7 linked regions of the Homo sapiens genome follow. The protein of the gene in region 5 purifies or fractionates together with the protein of the main gene of each other region. This does not show direct contact. Each region holds a gene or a part of one and is shown on either strand. Other genes may lie near its edges. The genes, in order: TMEM33, TPM1, UBAC2, AMFR, SLC44A3, TGFBR1 and KDSR.

The links.
Region 1: the proteins of SLC44A3 (region 5) and TMEM33 purify together in Homo sapiens (affinity purification with mass spectrometry; one large-scale study listed by BioGRID and IntAct). This does not show direct contact.
Region 2: the proteins of SLC44A3 (region 5) and TPM1 purify together in Homo sapiens (affinity purification with mass spectrometry; one large-scale study listed by BioGRID and IntAct). This does not show direct contact.
Region 3: the proteins of SLC44A3 (region 5) and UBAC2 purify together in Homo sapiens (affinity purification with mass spectrometry; one large-scale study listed by BioGRID and IntAct). This does not show direct contact.
Region 4: the proteins of SLC44A3 (region 5) and AMFR purify together in Homo sapiens (affinity purification with mass spectrometry; one large-scale study listed by BioGRID and IntAct). This does not show direct contact.
Region 6: the proteins of SLC44A3 (region 5) and TGFBR1 purify together in Homo sapiens (affinity purification with mass spectrometry; one large-scale study listed by BioGRID and IntAct). This does not show direct contact.
Region 7: the proteins of SLC44A3 (region 5) and KDSR purify together in Homo sapiens (affinity purification with mass spectrometry; one large-scale study listed by BioGRID and IntAct). This does not show direct contact.

Annotation. Positions count from the first base shown.
Region 1 is NC_000004.12:41,938,429-41,941,928, reverse strand, and holds part of TMEM33 (transmembrane protein 33), read right to left. Parts: intron 3,328-3,500; coding exon 3,233-3,327; intron 2,734-3,232; coding exon 2,546-2,733; intron 1-2,545. UniProt on the Homo sapiens protein: Acts as a regulator of the tubular endoplasmic reticulum (ER) network by modulating intracellular calcium homeostasis. Mechanistically, stimulates PKD2 calcium-dependent activity. Suppresses the RTN3/4-induced formation of the ER tubules.
Region 2 is NC_000015.10:63,056,247-63,059,746, reverse strand, and holds part of TPM1 (tropomyosin alpha-1 chain), read right to left. Parts: intron 2,763-3,500; coding exon 2,629-2,762; intron 185-2,628; coding exon 67-184; intron 1-66. UniProt on the Homo sapiens protein: Binds to actin filaments in muscle and non-muscle cells. Plays a central role, in association with the troponin complex, in the calcium dependent regulation of vertebrate striated muscle contraction.
Region 3 is NC_000013.11:99,336,854-99,340,353, reverse strand, and holds part of UBAC2 (ubiquitin-associated domain-containing protein 2 isoform 1 precursor), read right to left. Parts: intron 35-3,500; coding exon 1-34. UniProt on the Homo sapiens protein: Restricts trafficking of FAF2 from the endoplasmic reticulum to lipid droplets.
Region 4 is NC_000016.10:56,405,046-56,408,545, forward strand, and holds part of AMFR (E3 ubiquitin-protein ligase AMFR), read right to left. Parts: intron 3,072-3,500; coding exon 2,919-3,071; intron 200-2,918; coding exon 159-199; intron 1-158. UniProt on the Homo sapiens protein: E3 ubiquitin-protein ligase that mediates the polyubiquitination of lysine and cysteine residues on target proteins, such as CD3D, CYP3A4, CFTR, INSIG1, SOAT2/ACAT2 and APOB for proteasomal degradation.
Region 5 is NC_000001.11:94,823,357-94,826,856, reverse strand, and holds part of SLC44A3 (choline transporter-like protein 3), read right to left. Parts: intron 2,365-3,500; coding exon 2,222-2,364; intron 1,025-2,221; exon of another isoform or gene 915-1,024; intron 1-914.
Region 6 is NC_000009.12:99,146,613-99,150,112, forward strand, and holds part of TGFBR1 (TGF-beta receptor type-1 isoform 1 precursor), read left to right. Parts: intron 1-1,041; coding exon 1,042-1,172; intron 1,173-2,567; coding exon 2,568-2,693; 3' UTR 2,694-3,500. UniProt on the Homo sapiens protein: Transmembrane serine/threonine kinase forming with the TGF-beta type II serine/threonine kinase receptor, TGFBR2, the non-promiscuous receptor for the TGF-beta cytokines TGFB1, TGFB2 and TGFB3.
Region 7 is NC_000018.10:63,332,707-63,336,206, forward strand, and holds part of KDSR (3-ketodihydrosphingosine reductase), read right to left. Parts: intron 2,653-3,500; coding exon 2,551-2,652; intron 1-2,550.

The sequences.
Region 1 (3,500 bases), on a different chromosome or scaffold from region 5:
AGATTCATAATCTTAGTCTTCAACATTACTCTTAAACTATTAATACAATGTATTTAGAAAAGATAAGAGGTGAAATGCCCTATCTGTTATTAATCAAGCAAGGACAAAATATCACTTTTATAAGAAGAAGGATCAGAACGCAAATCTGTAATATTACTTTGGGCCCGCTTTTATTTATTACCATATCACTTTAATAATCAGATTAGCATTTGCTGCCAATTACTAGTTTATGTTATTCCCACTGTTTACTACATTCCCTTTGTAAGAATTTAAGGAATATGAAATCCTTAATCTTCAACATTCCCAGGAAAGAGGGGCTACCAAATAACCAACTGTATAAAAAGGCAGAAAGGTTTTCTTCACCAGTCATGAGTCTCATTTGGCAAGACCTCAGGATTCACTCAACAAAACTTACTGAGTGCCTGATCTGTGTGAGGCACTGTTCCCAAAGTTATTGACGTATTCAGTTTACCCTACATTGAAACACATTTTCTGTCATTTCTATTTCTCCCTCCAAAGAAATTTTAAGCTACTAAAAGGCATGACCAAAAATCTCTACATAACTTCCCGTTATAGCTCAGAAAGGCTAGAATTTTAACATTGGTGACTGCAAAGCACTTCAATCAACAGAGGCTGGTCAAGCCAATAATATGCCAAACAAATGTGATTATCATTTACAGTTGTAGTATAGTAATCATTTAATGAGTTTTACCTAAAAATAAACCAATACAAATTATGATGGGACATTACAGACTCATGCATTGAAACAGGAAAAATTTTATCCTTACATTTCAAACTACCCACATTATCTCAGTGAAGTGAGTAATTTAAAGGGAATCTCCATATACTGAATATTTAAATGAAATTACCAGGTTTACCCACATACAGAAAGAAATATTTTTAATGTATACTTAAGTATTACTCACCCACTAACTGTAGATAAGGTAGAGCTTTTAAGTTAGAAAGACTTTTTCAGCATTACTACTTACTAGCCAATGTGTGGGAAGTGAATACTGACAATCAGCAAATCAGCATCTTTATTAAAAATATACCACAACAATTTTTTTCAGAGTGCTACAAAGATTAAATGTCAAGTTCTTTTTTTTTTTTTTTTTTTTTTTGAGAAGGAGTCTCGCTCTGTCGCCCAGGCTAGAGTGCAGTGGCACAATCTCAGTTCACTGCAACCTCCACTCCAGGGTTCAAACGATTCTCCTGCCTCAGCCTCCCGAGCAGCTGGGACTACAGGCACATGCCACCATGCCCAGCTAATTTTTTGTATTTTTAGTAGAGATGGGGTTTCGCCATATTAGCCAGGATGGTCTCAATCTCCTGACCTCATGATCCGCCCACCTCAGCCTCCCAAAGTGCCACCGCACGTGAGCCACCGCGCCTGGCCTAAATTCAAGTTCTTATACTGGCAAAATAGGTGCTCAGGAAATTTCGGTTTCCTCCTATTTCTTTTCCTTAAGACTTATAAAAATCTATTTAAAAATTTGATACTTCATGAGCATAGGTATCTAAATAGGTAATATTCAGTCTCAGAGGAATATTTTATTGTGCTTTACATAACATACAGATGTATCATAAATATTCAAAAGCTCTTAGACCAGCACTTCTCAATGCACAAAATGATTTGCAGAGATAATCTACAGGAAAAAAAACAACCACAAATTTAAGTTTAAAAAACCCTACTAACTCTCTTAGTTTCACAACACACGTTAGAATACCAAAGCCACTATAGTAAAGAACCCTATTTAAAAATGTTTGACCTGGCTGGGCGTGATGGCTCACGCCTATAATCCCAGCACTTTGGGAGGCAGAGGCAGGTGGCCTGGGCAACAGAGCAAGACTCTGTCTCAAAAAAAAAAAAAAAAAAAAAAAAGAAAGTTTAACCTAGTGTTCACTATAGAACCTCTTCCCCATTTTTCCCCTCCTTTATGGACTACCCAGTATCATCCCACAACACACCTTTGAAATGTGAAAACATACAAATTCCAAATGAATTATTTCTCATTAGCTTCACGGATTATCCATGTGTGTCCTTATTTTCTACTCTATACACAGCAAATATTAATTTCTTTGTATTGATTATCTCATTACCTGCTTAAATAAGTTGTTTCTTGGTTAAATTCCATTTGTATCTAGTTCACTGGGGTTAAGATGGAAAGAGCTGAGGACCTCTCTTTTTTAAAGCAAGACATCTGGACACTTTGCCAAAAACGTGAATTAAATGAAAAAAATGTAAATATTAAAGTAAGTTCTGCGTAAGGTTGTGCTTCGAAGGGGAATTTGAAAATATCCATTCTAATAGGGAAGCTTACAAGAGGCAAGAACAAAGATAGTTTAAAATTCCTAAATCAGCTCTTCAAAGTTTAGATTTCACATTTTAAAGTCAGAAATTCTTACACTAAACATATCTTCATTCAAATGAAGTGCCGAGAACAAACCCAGGCTTCATGGAATGCCTTCATTGCTGAAATAATCAGAAGAGATCTCCTATATGCTTAGTTGGCAATTTCATTGTTAACAAGGTAGAAAAGGATACTTGTAACTGGATAGGAATTTACAAAGATGAGTGAATACAACAGGTAGTGGCAGCTGTCCTCTAACAAAGCCTGGGCCAGGAATGCTCTGCTTAACTGGAAGTGTGGTAATCTTTGATGCAGCCTCAGAGCACTGGTAAGAGCATTTGCCAGCAAAGCACGTTGGTAAAAGCTTGCTGCTTCATGCAACCTGCAAATTACCAGAGGAGAGGTTATCATGAGACATAAACAACTGCAGTGTCTCTTCCTCCTTTGTGAATTGCATCATAATTGCACAACACCTAAATCACTTGTCAATAGAAAAAAATTACATGAACTTATTCTACCGTTTTAATAGCTTCACTTCATATATATGCCCAACTGAATTTCTTATAATCAATTTATAAAATTGAATTTTATAAAGCAGGACCTTCCTGTCAAGTAATAAGTAAAAATGAAAAAAACATGAACTTATCTCATTCCCACACATCAATTTTTCCTTGGATTTTCAATGTGTTAGTTTCACAAAGCACAAGATATAAAATATTCCTCTGATAATGTTATTAGGTTGTTAGTACCTGAAGGCTGGAACTTGTATTTTATTTGTCCCTAAACCCTTTACAGGTTAATAAGTCTTACACCTAAAAGGCACTCCATATAAACTGACTCAACAATTGAATATCAAAGGCAGCAATATGTATAATACATACCCAAGAAGAGGCAGAACAAACAGAGCAGAGCAGTAAACTGTGAACAAGCGAGAAAGCCACATTGCCGTGTCCAGTTTATTGGTCATCATGAATTGCTAAATTTAAAAAGAAAAATACTGTAAGCTATGCCTGCAAATCATGTTTTTAAGCATCAAGACTGTGTGGTTTTTATGTCTACTCAAAATATTTTAATCTTCCTCCATTTGTTTTTTTAGATCATTAGGTGAAAACTCTAAGGCAATTACATGTTTCATGTATATGCTTAATG
Region 2 (3,500 bases), on a different chromosome or scaffold from region 5:
ATTGCTCCCTGGCTTCCTGAAGGCCACTGCTGGGTGTCCACAAGGCTTTGGGCCCCAGGATCTGACCTCTTCATATTTGCGGTCGGCATCTTCAGCAATGTGCTTGGCCTCTTTCAGTTGGATCTCCTGAATTTCCATTTTTTCTTCATCTTTTTGGGCTCGACTCTCAATGACTTTCATGCCTCTGAAAAGAAAGACAAGCAAGAAAACCCAAGATTTAGAGCTGAACTTCCCAAATGCACACTGCACTGCTGTGGCTTGTGAGGCTTAGTGTAAGTGGTAGACCAAAATAGAGCACAGAGCTACTTTTATTTTCCAAACCAGGAAACAACAATTTCCAGAGCTAAAGGTGGAAAAAAGAGACACATTTCTCTCTGTTCACTGTGAATGAACTCTCTCACTTTGAGTACTGATGAAACTATCAGGCATCTAACATTAATGATGACGAAAGGTACCACGTCAGGAATCTGTCTGAATCTTGGCAGTATGAAACCGGAAAAGCCAATATGCTTTACTATTAAAAAGATAATGAGATTTCTTGCCTTTCCTGTGGGAAGCCTCAGCTTGCACATGAACCAAAGCTAGAACAAAATCAAACTTATCTTTATATACCTCTTTCTACAAAGAATCTTCTTACCCTGCCACCCATAAACAAAAATATTAGACTTAATGTTAGATTTAATAAACTATTAAGTCCACAAAGAATGCTGATATTTGACCATTTCAGACAAGTAATAATGGCAATTTCTTATGGTTCAACTGAATGCATCAAATTAAGTTTTACCTATAATGGAACCCTTTCATGACAGCAATGCTGGGAGACAGGCCTGACACTGTCCTCTACACTGAGTGTATTAGGGTCCTATGGCATGGTGTATATTAGGGTCCTATAGCGTGGTGTAATGTTTCAGAAAAATACTAAATGACCTATGATATTTTACAGATATATGGAATAACAAGTCATGTAAAATGGAATTCATTTATCAAAATTTAAGTAGGCAGTATAAGTGAACCACTATTTTTTTATTTTTATTTTTTGAGACAGAGTCTCGCTCTGTCACCCAGGTTGGAGTGCGGTGGTGTGATCTTGGCTCACTGCAACCTCCACCTACTGGGTTCAAGCGATTCTTCTGCCTCAGCCTCCCGAGTAGCTGGGATTACAGGTGTGCACCACCACGCCTGGCTAAGTTTTCTATTTTTTAGTAGATTTAGGGGTTATGCCACGTTAGCCAGGCTGGTCTCGAATCCCTGGCCTCAAGTGATCTGCCCGCCTCGGCCCCCTAAAGTGCTGGGATTACAGGTGTGAGCCACCACATCTGGCCCACTATCTTTTGATGAAGCATTGGAATACAGTTGAGGAGATCTGGGTCGGAGTCTTGGCTTAGCCACAAATATGCTGTGAGCCTTGGTGCAAGTCACATCAGCCTCTGAGCCCTACTTTTCTCATTTGTAAAACTAAGGGACTAAATGATCCCCAAGTCCCCTTTACTCCGAAGTCTAACATTACCAGACTGCCTTTAAGGTACACTAACAAGTATATTTCAGAAAGAAGTCAGCCACAAAACTGCTCTTATGCGTACACTGTAAGATGCTTAGTCATCTTAAAGAAGTCCAAAATGCTTGGTTAGCGAAGAAACACTAAGCAGCGGTGAATAATGGCCTAAAAAGTTTAGCTAAAAATCTTCTTTAATCCTAAAGTCTGAAATCACTCTTTATACCTGGTACCTAGTGGTAGGGTCACTTCAAAGAGTAAGAAATGGACAAGATGACTGACTGCATTCACTTGCCCAGGTCACAGCACAGACAGATACACATTCAGTGCTCTGAGCCCCTTCATGCTATGCCATCCCTCAAGCGGCAGAACGCTCTCTCACCTCATGGAGTCTCTCTTGAAGTACTTCTATGCAATATGGCAAATCCTTACTTCCAACAGTTGAGCTTAAGGGAAAATGCCTTTTAGACCACACAAGGCTGTGCTGGTCTATACGAACCATGCTTTCCTTTACTACCACAAAGCTGAATCTGAGTAATAATTCAGCTACAGCCAGATTACAGTGGAGGTGGGCTCAGAACACACGAGCATCTGACTATTTGTGTGCATGTGTGTTGTGTATATTACTAAGACCAAGTCCAAAATATTTTACTTTTGCAGACCATGTTTCTGCTTTGTGTTTTTTCTTCCACCTATTTGTTAAGCTATTTTGACAACTGATAGTCCACAGTTCCTTTATTTACACCTAAGCCTCCTTGTATATTATAAAATAAAGTTACACTTTAAAAAATGCACAATTGCTCTGTGGTCAGTAGGAGTGAAAGGGCCAACTTGTATCCCTGACATTTCTCCTTTACATGTCTGTCTCCCTCATTAGATGGTGAGTTCTGTAAGGGCAGGAACAAGATCATCTTCTTCTTTGTAACCTTAGGGCTTAGGACAGTGCTTTGGACATAGTAGGTGTTTCACTAATGCTAAATGAACAAAACCAACCGAGTTATACCTGGGATCAATAGAGGAAATGATCCCACCACCAGGGGACTGAAAAATTCTTAAACCTCAAAGATCACAGGAGCCCTCCGGTTTATTCCACCAGGAAAGGCAGCTGCAAAAGATGGCTGATGAGGCATTCTCACCTCTCACTCTCATCTGCTGCCTTCTCAGCTTCCTCCAGCTTCTGCAAAGCTGTTGCCAGACGCTCCTGGGCACGATCCAACTCTTCCTCAACCAGCTGGATGCGTCTGTTCAGAGAAGCTACGTCGGCTTCAGCCTAGGTAGAGAGTGAAAAGCATTTCAGAGTTGGGGAGAAAGTGAGGGTGGTAGCTTCAGGAAATGGCTGGGACTGCAATGCTGATTTCAGATAGGAAGACTGTCTTGTGGTGAGCTACCTTTAAGTGCATTACAAGCCCTCATCAACTCTGGAGTTCTCGGACACATTTACACATTGATTTATACAGTGAACATCCATATTTGTGTATACACAAATCTATACACACAATTCTCATCAGACAGACAGATCATTAGCAAACGCTCTTTCACATGGTTCCTTTCTTCCGTAGATTTTTTTGTTTTGTTTTGTTTTGTTTTTGAGACAGGGTCTCGCTCTATCACCCAGGCTGGGGTGCAGTGGCACGATCTCAGCTCACTGCAAACTCCGCCTCCTGGATTCACGCCATTCTCCTGCCTCAGCCTCCCGAGTAGTTGGGACTACAGGCGCCCGCCACAACGCCCGGCTAATTTTTTTGTATTTTTAGTAGAGACGGGGTTTCACCGTGTTAGCCAGGATGGTCTCAATCTCCTGACCTCCTTATCCACCTGCCTTGGCCTCTCAAAGTGCTGGGATTACAGGCGTGAGCCACTGCGCCCGGCCCACTTCCGTAGAGTTCAACACCCTGGCTTTACTTGCCTGTTAAACAAGAGCGTCATCACGGCCACCTCACTCACTGGGGGCCTGAAGTGTGAACTGAGACAAGACTTACCCAGGCTCAGCCATGTAAGACAATAGCAG
Region 3 (3,500 bases), on a different chromosome or scaffold from region 5:
GGAACATTTTGCTGTCGTAGCACAGACCGGACATCTAGAAGAAAAACGTCCAATGTGATTGTTTAAATGTAGTATTATTTTAAAAAATGTACACGACTCAAAAATCAGCAGCCTCCAGACACTGCACACGGTATTTTTCTTAGTCATAGCAGTGTTAGGCAATAAGCAAAATCCTCTACCACACTGCAGAACACTAAGCAGTGCAAATCAACACAAAATTGAACTTAGTAAAACAAAATTGTTTTTTATTGAATTAGAAGAGCTAGCAAAATTCTAATCATTTAGTATTCAAAGTTCTGGTAAAAGATTGTCAAGACACTGTCTTCATTTTTTAAAAAGCCGTAAAAGATCTGATTATTGAAACACTTTCACACTGTACTGACTCTGCGGTTACCTTTGTTGGCAGATGGCCATCACAGAGACACCAGCAGAAAACAACTGCCATGTCTCAGCTGACCCAGTCACACGATCAATTTATCAGAGAATAAACACAATCTAAAATCTTGGTTTTTATTTACATAGTGTTTTAATCAGTTTTTCAACTACTGATTTTTCTAGACATTTAAAATCCTCACCAATATTAGTTCCATTTATAAACCAACCTTGTCTTCATCTTGAAGGTCATTTATAATGTATGGTTACAGAAGTCTCAAGGCTTCCTATGATTTTCTAGTTAAAAATGACTATGGCTATTCCTTTGTAAAAAAAAAAAAATCTTGATGTGAATTTGATTCTTAGGATTAGAAGATCAGATTAGAACATATTTGACAACTTTCTAATATGAGAAAAGTATACTTCAATGTTTAAAAATAAAATTTAAATTGATGAATTGGCAAGAATTCTTTGAGACTGTGCTACACACCAGGCACTGTTCTGGGAACTTAGAATACAGCAAAGAACAAGATAAGCAAGGCCCCACTCTCACAGGGCTTATAGCAGTCAATGTGGAGAACAGGCAGTAATCAAGTCAACACATAAAACTATTTCTGGCAAGTTCTGGGAAGGAAATAAAGTGACATGGGGCACGAACCTACTCTGGGGGCAGCGGGGGACATCAGGAGAGCCCTCAGAGAAAGTGATACTTGAGCGAAGATCTTAAGGATGATGCGGTGCCCGTGACTTGATGAACTGGGGAAATAACATTTTGGGCAGAGAAAGCAGCAGATGCTGCGCAGCCCGAGCTTGGGAGTGTCTATTAGATATCTTGGGGGGCTACTGAGTGGGCAGGTGGCTATGTAATTCTAGAACTCAAGGAAAAGGTCGAGATAAGGATTTCAGAGTCACTGGATATGATATGACATTTAGGGTAACAGGACTAGAGGAGATAAAATGGGGGGGAGGAGGAGACACAGCAGAAGAGAGAACAGGACTAAGGACTGAATCCAGGAGTGCACAAATATTCTATGGACAGACAGAGTAGGAAACGCCAGTAAGGAAATCTGAGACAGGGCTGCCAGTGAAGAGAAGGGAAATAGAGTTTAGTTATCACTGAAGCTAAGAAGTGTTTTAAAATAGGGATGGTCAGCTATATCTAATGCAGCTGATAAGTAAGACAGAACTAGCCACTGGATGTTGCAAATGGAGGTGTTTGATAAACAAGGTGTTTACAAGAACAGTTTTGGTACCAAAGACAGACTGTAGTAGGCTGAAGAGTGAATGGTGGACAACTTCTGGTTTCAAATAATTTCTGTGCCCCTTTACTCAAAAATAGTACAAGACAAAGAAAATGAAAACAGAAACAAACTCCAAGGTCCATGAAACCAGAAACTAATCCTGAACCATGCTAACAAAATAGAAAGCTTATCAAGTGATTATAAACCACTCTGCATATAAGCAGCATATAAGTCCAAATGCCTGCAGAGAGTCCTGTGGGACTCAGAAAAGCACAGGGACTAGAGCAAGCTTGTTCAACCTGAGGCCTGTGGGCCACATGTGGCCCAGGACAGCTTTCAATGTGGTCCAACACAAATTCATAAACTTTCTTAAAACATTACAAGGTTGGGCGCAGTGGCTCACACCTGTCATCCCTGCACTTTGGGAGGCCAAGGCGGGCGGATCACAAGAGGTCAGGAGTTTGAGACCAGCCTGGCCAACATGGTAAAAACCCGTCTCTACTAAAAATACAAAAATTAGCCGGGCGTGGTGGCACACACCTGTGGTCCCAGCTACTCAGGAGGCTGAAGCACAAGAATCGCTTGAACCTGGGTGGTGGAGGTTACAGTAAGTCGAGATTGTGCCGCTGCACTCCAGCCTGGGCGACACAGTGAGACTCTGTCTCAAAAAAAAAAAAAAAAAAAAAAAAAAAAGAAAAAAAGAAAAAAAGTTAGGAGATTTTTTTGCAATTTTTTTAAAGCTCATCAGCTATCTTCAGTGTTAGTGTATATTATGTGTGGCCCAAGACAATTCTTCTTCCAATGTGTCACAGAAGAGTTCAAAAGACTAGATACCCCTGGACTAGAGGGTCTAGGCCCTGTGGAAGGAGGAGAGAAGTAGAGGGTTACTTAAGTCTGGGTAAGAGGCACCCCAGTTCCTCCTCATGCTCCATGTACCCTTTCTCCCCTCCACAGAGAGAAGGGAAAAGCTGTGTAGGGCATGAACCAAGGAGGGTCCATGTGGGTTGGGAAGGCCAAGGCCTCTGCACAGGCAGATTATGTGCATCTCATGCGGCTGTCAGCATAGGGGTTCCAGAAGAAGACAACAGAGGGAATATGGGGGAAAGGATATTATATTTAAAGAGATAAACAGCTGAGAGTTTTCTAGAATAAAGAAAGAATATAAATCCTTAGGATGAAAGGGCAAGAGTCCCTAAAAGAATGCTAAAACGAAATTTACATCTAGATCCACTGTGGTGAAACAAAAGAAAGAAATCCTTAAAAGCAACCAGGGATAAAATACAGACTGTTTAGAAAGAAAAAATAAACTGTTAGCAAATAACAGCAAGAAAAACTGTAAGATAATTGGGAATAAATAAATAATATATATATAAGGCCTTGACAGAAAAAAAAGAAAAAGATAATAAGGGATATTTTTTCAAAACCAACCCTAGTGATAATAAAGATACCAGTTCCATGAATAGGAAGATGCAAAACTTTTAAGATACCAATTTTCATCAAATTAATACATAAATTAAATATCATTCAAAATAAAATCTTAACAGGGTGTTTTGTTGGAATGTAAATGCCAAGCCTCAAATTCATGCGGAATATTTAAGGTTTGCATTTTAAAAACACCATGTTGGGAGAAAGAAGCCAGACCCAAAGCCTGAAAACACGATTCCACTTCTGTGAATGAATGAACCTAAACCACACACTAAGCAGTAAAACGAGACAGGAAAGCGCAAAGATGATGACTATGTGTGCTAGGAGGGGTCACAGAAGGGAGGGAGAAAGAAGGGGAAGGGGTCACAGGAGGGAGGTGGGAAGGAGGAAGAGAGGTGGGAAGGAAGGGGGGCACCATGGGCTGCGGGGCTGGCCAGGCATGGTCTGTACCTGCATGGTGGA
Region 4 (3,500 bases), on a different chromosome or scaffold from region 5:
AATGAAGAGAGAAAACACCTTAGTAATTTACTGTTACTACTGAATTTGGTTTAACCATGTTGTAATTTAGTCCGATTTTTATATATTTCATACCTGCTACATCTTAAAATCAACTGTATGAGTAGGCCTCCATCACCTCCCTCCCCAATTTCACTCACCGTAAAATCACATGAGCAGTCCTCACTGTCACAAGAAGAGACTATAAAAAAGGATATTTTCTTTTTAGTAAAATGTAGCATTGCTCAGGCCAAACTTTTTATAAAATGATAAAAGACAAACATTTCTCAGTTCAATTAAAAAGCAGATTGTTCAAGTTTACCCATTATTTTATTTTCTCTGCTTCAAATTTCTGTAAAATATTTTTATGACCTAGAAACCCAACTTTTATTGAGGAAAAGTCCTGTTAATAGGTGACAACCAATTACACCTACCCCCCAGGAATCCCCCTACAATCTTGAGGTTTACCCTGGTAGTCTGACCATCAATTCTATTTCACACAGCATTAAGTCACTATCACTGATTACTTAGAAGGGTGATGCTGTAACTCCAAGTATAGTTCAGGTACTGCTATCCTAGACACGAGGACCTGCTCTCTCCCTAGTGCTTTGTGCACTCCCTTTGTCCACCAGCAGAAAAAAGAACGAAAGCAATCAAAAGCAAAATAAGGCCAGCCACATCACACCTTTAATCCCAGCACTTTGGGAGACCGAGGCAGGAGGATTGCTCAAGCTTAGGAGTTCAAAACCAGCCTGGGCAACATGGTGAAACCCCATCTCTACAAAAAATACAAAAATTAGGTGGGCATGGTGGCACGTGCCAGTAGTCCCAGCTACTTGGGAGGCAGAGGTGGAAGGATGGATTGAACCTGGGAGGTGGAGGCTGCAGTAAGCAGAGATCGCACCACAGCACTCCAGCCTGGGTGAGAGAGCCAGACCCCAGACCCTGTCAGAAGGGAAGGGGAAGGGGAAGAAGTGGAAGGGGAGAGGGGAGAGGGGAGGGGGGAGGGGAGGAGAGGGGAGAGAGAGGAGGGGGAGGGGGGAGAGGGGGGAGAGGGGGAGAGGGGGGAGGGGAGGGGGGAGAGGGGAGAGAGGAGAGGAGAGAGGAGAGGAGAGAGGAGAGGGGAGGAGAGGAGAGGGACAAAATAAGTCTCTCATGGCTTTTTTTTTTTTTTTTGTAGAGACAAGGTCTTGCTATGTTGGCTAGGCTGGTCTTGAAGGGTATTTTTTTTATTACAGAAATTGACGGCCAGGTACAGTGGCTCACACCTGTAATCCCAGCACTTTGGGAGGTCGAGGCAGGCCGACTGCTTGATCTCAGGAGTTCAAGACCAGCCTGGTAACATGGCAAAACCCCATCTCTACAAAAAAATCAAAAATTAGCCAGGCATGGTGGTTCATGCCTGTGGTCCCAGCTACTAAGGAAATGAGAGGATCACTTGAGCCCACAAGGTGGAAGTTGCAGTAAGCAACTGCACTCCAGCCCGGGCAACAGAGTGACACCTTGTCTCAAAAAAAAAAAAAAAAAAAAGATATTTTTCATTAAGAAAAAAAGTCCTCTTAATCTAGTAGAATAAAACTATTACATTATTTATGTTTTAGATTAAATTCCCATTTGTAAGTGAAAAATATTTTACAGGAGAGAGAAACACTATGAATGTAAGAAATGATTTAGTTTAAAATATCAAATCTGTAATATGATAAATTATCTTAAAAGAATAAACAGTAACAAGCTAAAATAAAAGTATATACTATAGTATGAGCTGACGGGCCTAAGTTAAATGTGCTTATTTTTAGGTATACCCTTTTCAAAGTTTGGATAATATTATATTAGTTGAAAGTTAGAGAATCAAAAAAAGGCAAACATAAGTATCATTCTAACTTTGCAATAAATCTAAAGCAAATAAGTCAGTGTAAATGGATTTTTCAACAGATTTTCTGTCAAGACGAAATACGGTTGTATATTTTTCATATACAGAAGTATTCACCTAAGATTACATATCTTATTATTTATATTAGGACTATTGTATTTTAATTACAATATTATAATATGATAATTAACATTATGTATTTAAATGTTTCTTTTCTAATTTTACTTACACTACTAAATGTACTCAAAAATGAATGCTATCAAACAGAAATAAACTTTAACTCTGCTCTACCAAATTCCCAATGAGTAGTTCAAATGTAGTGTTTTGATATTAGCCAATTAGCTTCAGTTTATCTAATATCTCATTTTTTAATTAATAATACTAATTATGGGTAAGATAAAAGTATTTTGCCTTTGGCCTGAAGAAAAGGCAAATATAGCCATTAAATATAAGGACATACAAACAATTTTTATTTCTTTTTTTTTTTGAGATGGAGTCTCGCTCTGTCACCCAGGCTGGAGTGCAGTGGCGCAATGTCTGCTCACTGCAACCTCCGCCTCCCGGGTTCAAGCAATTCTCCTGCCTCAGCTTCCCAAGCAGGTGGGACTACAGACGTGCGCCACCACGCCCAACTAATTTTTTTTTTGTATTTTTAGTAGAGACAGGGTTTCACCATATTGGCCAGGCTGGAGAATTTTTATTTCTACTGAACAGAAATTGGTATTTTCAGAAAGGTTTAAAAGAGTGAAAAATTTTTAAATCTTAAAATATTCATGAATAGACCAGATTTTTCCTTCAAAATGATGAGTACAGTTTATTCATTATTTTGTAAAATCTTTATACCCTACGTAAAGAAAGAGTTACATAAAATACCACACAAAAGCATTCAGTACCAGTACCCAACACACAAAAAGGAACTGAAATGCTTGTTAAAATGAAAGACCAAATATCCACCTGTCATTTCATGGGTGAAAATAACTTGTCAAACATCCAGCTTCCTTGAAAACAGACAGAAATACAATCTGAGCAAGTCCTGCATCCAGTATCTCACCTCTGCAGCCATGAAAGCCAAGGTGTGCATTCCGTGGGTGTAGCCGGTGATGGAGCAGACGGCCGCCAGTCCACAGCAGGAAAGCAGCATGGCAACCAACAGGGACAGGACTCGACCGTGGCTGCTCATCGGCGTGGTGGGCGAGAAGGAAAGCTGAAATGCACACAGTAGGAAACTGCTCATTCTTCTTCATGGAAGTGTTAAACTTCACTGAGAAATTCAAGGTCAATCTTGGCTTCTCTGCTTAGGGTTCTGTGCTAAGCACAGAAAAGCATCCCATTACTATATGGTCCTATTCTCCAATAACCCAAATATGAGCATGAGGTGATATTTAGAGATCCGTGTCATTTAATTTACTGAGTATAACAATATGCATTATATTTTCATCCCTTACTCTCAAAGATCCTCCTAGCACTGGGATTATAAACCTCTAGAAGCAATGTTCCGAGGGTATACAACTCTCTCCTCTCACCTTCAACAGGACTCAGGACAGTGCCTGTTCTGTTCTGTTTCTTTCTCAATCTTGCTCTAGTCCTCCTCTCTGAAATTGGCATTCCTAGTCTATTAGGGCTAGCACAATTG
Region 5 (3,500 bases):
AGAGGAAGACCCCGTAGGCTGCCCTTTATGGGAGAGACCTTGAGAAGGGGTCCCAGAAGGTTTTTTTCCCTCCTGTTGGGGATGGGAGAAAGGTGGTGCAACAGGAGATGAGGAACAGATTTCCTGGGTGTGTGATATACATATTTTTGAAGAAGTTTAAAAATTGTGTTAAAATATACATAAAATTTACCATCTGAATCTTTCTTTTTTTTTTTTTTTGAGACAGAGTCTCGCTCTGTCACCCAGGCTGGAGTGCAATGACACTGCCACCTCTGCCTCCCAGGTTCAAGTGATTCTCCTGCATCAGCCTCCTGAGTAGCTGGGACTACTGGTGCCTGCCACCACACCTGGCTAATTTTTGTATTTCTAGTAGAGACAGGGTTTCACCATGTTGGCCAGGCTGGTCTTGAACTCCTGACCCTGTGGATCTGCCCGCCTTGGCCTTCCAAACTGTTGGGATTACAGGCATGAGCCACTGCACCAGCCCCATCTGAATCTTTCTAAGTGTACAGTGACATTAGTACATTCACGTTGTTGGGCTATCATCACCACCATCCATTCACAGAACTCATCTTCCCAAACTGAAATCTGTACCCATTAAACAATAGGTTCCCACCCTCCTTTCCTCCAGCCCTTTGCAATCGCCATTTTACTTTCTGTTTCTAGGAATCTGACTACTTTACATATCTCATGTAAGTGGAATCATACAATGTTTGTATTTTTGTGACTGGTTTATTTCACTTGGCATGACATCCTCAGGGTTCATCCCTGTTGTAGTATGTGTCAGAATTTCCTTCCTTTTTAATATTTCATTGTAATATACATATCACATTTTGATTATCCATTCAACCATTGATGGACACTTGAGTTGCTTCTACCTTTTGGCTTTTGAGAATAATGGAATGTATACTCACTTCAACCAGGAATGACTGTTTGTTGACACTGCATTATGAACACAATGTGAAATGGGAGCACATGGGCATCTAAGTCGCCCTTCCTCCTCCTGTCTTCTTTGTAAGTGGCTCTATGAGTGCAGGAGAAAATGCTCCGTAATTAGTCCATGCCCAGAAAGAGCAAGAGCCCCCTTAGGAGCAACACTCAGGAGGATAAGAGGCTTAGTCTGAGATTTGTATTTGGTGACTCCAAACTTATATTCAGGATTTATTTAGATCCTTAGGATTTCTCTTCTAGGAGCTACTTTTATTATTGAGTCCTAAAAATCCGTTTTTGGCTGGGTGTGGTGGCTCACGGCTGTAATCCCAGCACTTTGGGAGGCTGAGGTGACAGATCACAAGGTCAGGAGATGGAGGCCATCCTGGCTAACACAGTGAAACCCCGTCTCTACTAAAAATACAAAAATTAGCCAGGCCTGGTGGCGGGCGCCTGCAGTCCCAGCTACTTGGGAAGCTGAGGCAAGAGAATCTCTTGAACCCGGGAGGCAGAGCTTGCAGTGAGCTGAGATCTCCCCACTGCACTCCAGCCTGTGTGACAGAATGAGAGTCTGTCTCAAAAAAATAAAAAATAAAAATAAAACATCATTTTTTTGTTCTGTCATGTGAAGCAAGAGCTAAAATCTTAAAAATTCTTACAAGGCAGTCTCCATCTTAGAAGTTCATGGTCAGGGATTTCTCTCCCCTCTAGGGAATTCCCATCTCTTCTCTCCCCTTTCTGTTTCCCTGTGGGAGGTGGGGTAAGGGAGTAGGGGGAAGAATGCAACACCACAGTGCCATAGCTGGGGCAGGGGTGGGACACAGGTCCCCAGTGTTCCAGGTGGCATTCGGGTATTTCCACGTAGAAACAATGTGTGGATGATGTAGGGTTCAAACATATACGATTGGTAACATGATTCTGATTCATTATGGAGAATAATAGCAGCAATTAACGTTTATTATACTTTAGCTCATGCAGTGTCTCATGAATCCTTAAAACAACCTTGTGAGGTAGGTATAATAACTAGTTTAGAGAGATGAAAACTAGGCTTTGAGAGGTTAAGTACTCTGCCCAAGATCACACAGCTGAAAAGTAGCATGGGCTGAATTTGAACTTAGGACTATGATTCTAAAACTTGTACTCTTACCTGTACTATATACACAGCCTTCCTTTTTATAAAATAGGCTGACAGAGTTTTGAATGGGAAAAGTTTCCAGGCTCCAAATGATGAATTTATACAAAGTTTTGAGGTACAGTTCCTTACAGACTGGGGACTTATTTAGATACTTACTTTTTTAGGGTCATGTCCTGCCCTGAAAGAGGGGCCCCTTCCACGGGGGAGTTCTTCTTGCCACACATGTTGCCAAAGCTGTCATAGCCAAAGAGGAGTCTTCCCGCGGCTCCAGCCACCACCGAGTAGCCCATGATAAACACCTGGCAAAAACGGGGGCATATGAGAGCCTGGCCAAAGGGCTGAGCGCACAGTGCCCCACACCCCTGCAGATGCTGATATAAAACGGAGCCTGGTGGAACGTGAAGCTCTCCAGCATCATAGCGCTTTGCTCCGTCAGTAACAGTGTCAGCAACTCCCATCTATCAGCATCCTGCTCCTCTGCTACTTATACATTTAGGTAGAGAGAGAATCTAATCCACTGAAACAGATTTCTCTCCATTTTCTTACCTCTGTGCTTTTTAACCTTTTCCTTAAGAGTCTATCATTTTTCTTTTTGGTCTAACTTTACTGGGACAATTCAATTTTTCTTCCCTTGATGTTCTTGCTTAATTTAACTGCTTCAGGGCTATGCTAATTCTTTCCCCAAGGTTTTTTTTTTTTCTACTACTTTTTTTGTTTTTCTTTTCTTACTTTTAAGGGATTCTGCAGAAGCAACACAGTTGATATGTACTGAAACACTGTTCACCAATCTGCAAATAGTGTTTTGGAGTAACTGCTTAAGACATACAAAATAAAGGACCACAGGAATTCTGTTGGACAAGAACATCTTGCAATCTATCATCATTTTTATCCACTCTCATAGTGAATGTGGAATATTTGAAATTTCAGTTCAAACAACTGTGCCATTAATACATACTGACAGGCTCTCTGCCAAGATTGAATATGTATCTTCCCATAATGCAAACTTAGTAAGTTTCCCAGTACTGTATGCAATATATAGGATACCATTTAATACTCTATATTGACAAGTTCATTCCAGGAGAACAGATATAATACACTATTCATTAATATATAGTATTGATACCTTATGCTGCAAAGGTACATTGTCCTAAATTCAAATACCTTCTAGACATTCTGCATTTATTACTAATTTAGAAATCAAAATAACAAACATTCTTCAAGTGCCCAGTGTGTTCTTGAGACTTTCTTACTGGGAGACACAGGAATGACCAGAACCTACTCCTTGCCTCCAGGAACCCAGCCTAGAAGGCAAGCAGGACTTACGGGCTGCAGACCTCCTGGGGAAGGAGGCTCCCTGTCCTTTCCCACTCTCCAAGATCCTCCTAAGTCTAACTGGTCAGATTCTAGAATGAATGGGTCACCTTTGCTAGTAGTG
Region 6 (3,500 bases), on a different chromosome or scaffold from region 5:
AATTGCTCTCCTCTCCCCCAGTAGTTTGTCATGAGCAGAAGTTGTTCAAGAATTGTCTTCTTTTTTTAATTGAATGAAATTATGTACAGTCCATTATCTGAAACAGGATGTCACCGAGTGCCAGAGAAAACAAAGGCGATGAAACCTTTGGGAGGGGACAGTGCCATGGTGTGCACATGCACAGCTCTAGCCTAGTGTATTCTCTTCCTGTTTCCATTTGAATCTGGAGACTCATCAGAACCCAACCCCTTGTTATATTGGAATATAGTTCTTTAGAATGGACAGCTGCTTGAGAGGCTCACCTAGGAAGCTGTTTCTAGCATGTACCTGGGTGTCAAACTTATTTTTTTTCTTTGAGATTGTGGTTATTTTCTCCAACTTGATAGTTACAGTTACATACACAGAATACAATTATGTTACCATTGTGTTGTATTCTAGAGTTAGTTTGTTTTAACTTCTAGCTTTTTAGATGGAGTACTTTTAATGTTTACTCAGGAAACAGTCTCTTAGGCTTGGGGACCTAGACTTGGCTGAGACCTAGTGCCTTAGGTTTTTGAAGCAGTGAGGGACAGAGTATTTCTCTGTATTGTAGTAAATAGGATATATTATTGACAGATGCAAGTAGAGAAAGGGACTTGGCACCTTAAACTTGCCTCATAAGATTCAAGTCTCACTGATAGGGTATATATATCCCTGTGCAAGTGAGAGCCTGTGCACTTACAGAATAGAATCTCATTTGCTGCACAATAGGGTTCTAGGGGAAAATGTCAATCTGGTCATCACAGCTCATAGTTTACTGTCATTTCAAATAGGCTTTATTGATCTCATGGCAATACTTAGTTTCAAGGTGTGGGTGGAATATCAACTCAGGGAAGTGGCTTGTGGATACAGATGTGGATGAGATAGAGAAAGCTGTAATCTCTGTTCCACATACCTACTTTAGTAATGAAACACTGTAATAGGTCTCTCAGGTGATCTTTTAATGCCTTGGCATTAGCTGAATAAATTCATCAAAATTTAATTTTTTTTAAACTGATACAGGAATTCATGAAGATTACCAACTGCCTTATTATGATCTTGTACCTTCTGACCCATCAGTTGAAGAAATGAGAAAAGTTGTTTGTGAACAGAAGTTAAGGCCAAATATCCCAAACAGATGGCAGAGCTGTGAAGTGAGTATTTCTTTTTGATATTAGGCAATTTTCTAAACTGCTTCTGCTTAGTAAGCAAAAGTTTGCTACTTTTCTTTAAGGAAAACTTTTCTTTAAGAATTTTCTTTTTCATAGCAGTCAAACCAATGTTTAAAAACAGAATAATTTGGTTTTCATATTCAATTGTAAGCACATTGAAAGGGCCATGGAACATTTGCAGTGGCCTTTAGTGTATCAGAACATAGTTTAGATCTGCCGGGCGAACTAAGGCACATATTTTTAAATGAATGCCTCCCTTCAGCCGGGGCAACCCAGAACACTAGACAGTTACCGGACATGAATGAGGAGCCCTGTATTCTAGACCAGCCTGGCTACCATTTCAAGGGTCTGACTCTGAACAAATCCCTTTAGTTCTCTGGACTTTAATATCCCTTTGCAAGGTGAGGAACTCAGATAAGGTGATTACAAAGGTGTTTCAAATGATTTTCCGTTTTATTCATCTGATTGCCCAGATAACCGTTAACCAGGAATTTAGGGAAAATGCTTTTTTCCAGCAGTATCTGAGCTGCTCAACTTCAGCTCTAACAAAAAGTTTTAGAAACGTTTTTGTAATTGTAAATTTAAAGATTCGTAAGATGAATTTTATTTAACCTCTCCTTAATTGCTAGCTGTTACTATTACAATATTGGTGAAGCAGAGCATATTCCTCCAGGTTTGAAGATTTGTAGCTTAAAAAGGCTATAAAAAGCTGTTCAGTTCAGTAGTTGATTTTACGTCTTAAACTATTGTAGGACTCAGCAGAACCTCTGATAAGCAAGAGAGCTTGCTACCTCCAACAAAATCACATCTCCAGGCCCAAATAAATAAAATGTATTTCAGCATGCTTAAGGAATTTGCATGTGACATAGTTTAATAAATGAGAGTGCTGCTAGATTTTGTCTTTTAGAAATTTGATCTACTTGGGAGGCTGAAGTGGGAGGATTGCTGGAGCCTGGGAGGTCAAGGCTGCAGTGAGCTGAGGGCATGCCATTGCATTCCACTTTGGGCGGCAGAGTGAGACCCTGTCTCAAAAAAAAAAAAAAGAAAGAAAAATTTGATGTGAATACTTCAAAGTACAAACTTAAAATTTCAGTGTGAGGTCAGATTTCTTCTTTGCTTTGCCCAGCTCTGGTTTAGGATTCGGCCTTTTCAGGTTTGCTAAATGAGTCACTCTTTGTCCACCTGCTTTCCAGCACTGGCACCAGTACCCTATTGATGGAAATTTATGTAATTTCTACTCATTTGCTATTACAAATAATGCTTAAACAATAACAAGTGTATATGTCATTTAAAAAGAAAATTTACACGTAAAAATTCTTATCCAGACCAATGGAAAATGGTGCATGCATTAATTTTTTTTTTTATATTTTCTTGTAGGCCTTGAGAGTAATGGCTAAAATTATGAGAGAATGTTGGTATGCCAATGGAGCAGCTAGGCTTACAGCATTGCGGATTAAGAAAACATTATCGCAACTCAGTCAACAGGAAGGCATCAAAATGTAATTCTACAGCTTTGCCTGAACTCTCCTTTTTTCTTCAGATCTGCTCCTGGGTTTTAATTTGGGAGGTCAATTGTTCTACCTCACTGAGAGGGAACAGAAGGATATTGCTTCCTTTTGCAGCAGTGTAATAAAGTCAATTAAAAACTTCCCAGGATTTCTTTGGACCCAGGAAACAGCCATGTGGGTCCTTTCTGTGCACTATGAACGCTTCTTTCCCAGGACAGAAAATGTGTAGTCTACCTTTATTTTTTATTAACAAAACTTGTTTTTTAAAAAGATGATTGCTGGTCTTAACTTTAGGTAACTCTGCTGTGCTGGAGATCATCTTTAAGGGCAAAGGAGTTGGATTGCTGAATTACAATGAAACATGTCTTATTACTAAAGAAAGTGATTTACTCCTGGTTAGTACATTCTCAGAGGATTCTGAACCACTAGAGTTTCCTTGATTCAGACTTTGAATGTACTGTTCTATAGTTTTTCAGGATCTTAAAACTAACACTTATAAAACTCTTATCTTGAGTCTAAAAATGACCTCATATAGTAGTGAGGAACATAATTCATGCAATTGTATTTTGTATACTATTATTGTTCTTTCACTTATTCAGAACATTACATGCCTTCAAAATGGGATTGTACTATACCAGTAAGTGCCACTTCTGTGTCTTTCTAATGGAAATGAGTAGAATTGCTGAAAGTCTCTATGTTAAAACCTATAGTGTTTGAATTCAAAAAGCTTATTTATCTGGGTAACCCAAACTTTTTCTGTTTTGTTTTTGGAAGGGTTTTTGTGGTATGTCATTTGGTATTC
Region 7 (3,500 bases), on a different chromosome or scaffold from region 5:
CTGTAGTCCAAGCTGCTGGGGAGGCTGAGGCAGGAGAATGGTGTGAACCCAGGAGGCAGAGCGTGCAGTGAGCTGAGATCGTGCCACTGCACTTCAGCCTGGGTGACAGAGCAAGACTCCGTCTCAAAAAAAAAAAAAAAAAAAAAAGAGAATAGAAAAATCCCTTTGTTTTTTTCCCTACACCCTCAGAGCACTGAAGCCAGTCCTTGGATCTTCCGGAAAAAACAATATTTAAGGTGAGACCTGAAGGATTAGAAGTTGGCAGGACACAGAGAAGATTCCAAAAAGAAGAAGATGGGTAAAGAAAGAAAGAAAAAAAAGAGCCTGGAAAGGTACGTGGGGTAGGAGATCAGGTGGTTTATGGCATGCGATGGAAATTTTTTTAATTTTTAAATCCTTTTTAGAGACAGGGTCTTGCTCTGTCACCCAGGCTGGAGTGCAGGAGTATGATCACAGCTCACTGTAGCTTCAGACTTCTGGACTCAAGCAGAAGTCTCCCAGTTGCTAGGAATACAGGTACACACCACCACGCCTGGCTTTCTTTTCTTTTACATTTTTTTGTAGAGACAGGGTCTCACTATGTTGCCCAGGCTGATCTCAAACTCCTGAGCTCAAGCGATCCTCCTGACTTGGCCTCCCAAAGTGCTGAGATTATAGGCATGAGCCACCATACTCAGGTGCAATGGAATTTTTAAAGCTTTATCCTGATGGTATCAAGGAGTCATTGAATGTTTTCATGCAATGTATAGTTGCAGTTTAGAAACAACTGGTGTGGAAAATGTGAGGGTACACTCAAACGCATCCAGGGGGCCTGAGCAGGGGGTTGCAGACCATAGTGGTTGCAGGGACTGTGCTCCTCCCTCAGGAGCAGCTGCCACCTGTGCTTGCTGATGACTGCCAGGTAAGAATGCAGACTCTGTGCAGCTAAACCTTCTGATTTTCCAAGAAAAGTCTGAAATCTGGACCTTTTATATAAAACCTAATTTTAAAACTATTTTAAAATCTTAAACACACACACTCACACCAGATGGACCCAACAAAACTGCTTTACAGGCCCATGGGAATCGTTTACAACCTCTGGCTCAAAAAGTGTGTAACTCAAGCAGGGGGCCTGCTGCGGCAACCCAGGCCTGGGCTCCAGAAGCACTGCCAGAATTGCAGAGAATGGAAGAATGTGAAGAACTGAGTGACAAGGATGACAATGATCTCTGACGTGAGGGACAGAAGCAGGGGAGTCCAGGACAACACGCCAGGTGTGAGCCACCATGCCAGCCCAAAAATTAAAACATAAAAGAATTCATGCATTTGTTCAGCTCAGGGATTCTGGAGTTCCTACTAAGTGCCAGGCGCTGGCTGTTAGGGGTACAACGGCAAACAAGAGGTGTGGGCCTGGTCCTCAAAGAGCTTACATCTAACACAGTGTCAACCTCTAAGAGAATGGCAAAGACAGTAGGTACATTACAGAATGAAAAGAAAAGAGGGCTTGGGAAAGACCCTGAAGAAAACCAACAACTAAGTCATTTATATAAGTCTGAATGTGGTTGACTGCACAGAATTTAGTACTTGTTAACAACTATCCCATGGCTTTGTCTTTCCAGAGCATTCCCTCTATTGTAACCCCTACTTCATTACACTGCACTACTATCTTTTTTTTTTTTTTTGAGACAGAGTTTTGCCCTTGTAGCCTAGGCTGGAGTGCAGTGGCTTGATCTCGGCTCACTGCAACCTCCACCTCCCGGGTTCAAGTAATTCTCCTACCTCAACCTCCCGAGTAGCTGGGATTACAGGCGTCCGCCACCATGCCCAGCTAATTTTTGTGTTTTTAGTAGAAACAGTTTCACCATCTTGGCCAGGCTGGTCTCAAACTCCTGATCTCAAGTGATCTACCCACCTCAGCCTCTCAAAGTGCTGGGATTACAGGCGTGAGCCACCGCGCCCGGACTACTATCACCTTTTTGGTCAGTGCATTCCACTTGACTGTATGCCCCTGAAGCTGGAGAGGTCGCCTTCCATCTGATTCCCCATGAGCAAGTACAGTGCCTAGCACACCAATGAAACACTGTGTATCTTGGACAAAATAATACATTCTATAAGCGAAGCAACTGTTTAATCCATGATTCGTGTCTCACTAAATTTAGCTGTGTGTGACCTGATTCACCTAGAAAAGGTTTTCTAGTCTAATATCCCAGTACTTTTTAAGCAAGGCTACCCCTTACTCTAGAGGAGTATTCCATTTTCAAAACACATTGGAGCAGTGGTTCTTAGGTGAAAATCCAGGTTAACACCTCAACAGCAGATACGGTGTTTTATTTCTCTATCTGCAAGGCCCGGCACTGAAGACTTCTTGCCATTCTAAATTCCTGAAGTTATATCTTTAACCTATTTACTCATTCCTGGTGGAGGAAGAGGAAAAGTTGATAGCTCCATAAAAATACATTGTCAAATAAAGTTACTTAGTTTTCCCTTAACCTCTTCTCATCAAGGTTTGATGAAAGGCAGTTTTTCTCTTGTCCATCGGCCTGTCTGATTGCTAGCCTAGGCAGAGCTTACCTGCTGGAGCCCCTCAGTAATAGAAGTTACTGGAGCCATCCCACAGGTCAGGGCCGAGAGCATGTACCCATCTGAGCCAAGGGAACTGTTGAAATTTCCTTGCTAAAAGAGAAGAAAAAGAAGAGAAAGAGGGAATCCTAGTAATGTGGACAGAAATCAGTCGGACACATCAGAAACAGTGGAGTGTGCTCGTTCACTTTAAGTGAGATAAAATGGTCACAAAGCATTGATCAGCACTCAGAAATGGACGCACGGCCTTGGCAGATGGCAGTTCTCAACAAGTGAGTCCACGGACCCCTGCGGGCCCCCAAGGACAAATGATTGTCCTAATAACACTAAGACATTCATTGTCTTTTCCACAGTGTGTTGTATGGAAAATACAGTTTTGCCTCTGCAAAACTGCAGAGACATGGGCAAGAACCACGGGGTTCTTGCCAAACTGTACTAGGAGTCATTGTCACCTCTACTACCACACGCACTCGCAGTAATAAATAATACACAAAGAAAATACAAGTTCTAAAATTCTTTTAAAAATCAAAGTGTCAGTTTTGCTTTAAAATCCTCTTGATAAAGCAGGAAAATTCATCATTTTGTTCAATGGCAACCCTCGAGGACATGTCTTCTTAATACTCTGTGTGACAAATGAGAATGCGCCCAACGCGCTTCCGCAGCACTGCATTCCAGGGCGGGACAACTGCCTGGAACAAAAGTCCTTGTGCAGCTCCTGAAGTCAAGGGCTAAACTGCCACTTCTTTCATGGAGCATCATTTGTATTGTTTATTTATTTATTTTCGACAGAATCTCACTCTGTGGCCCAGGCTGGAATGCAGTGGTGTGATCTCTGCTCACTGCAACCTCTGCCTCCCAGGTTCAAGTGATTCTCCTGCCTCAGACTCCCAAGTAGCTGGGATTACAGGCATGCACCACCACACCCGGGTAATTTTTGTATT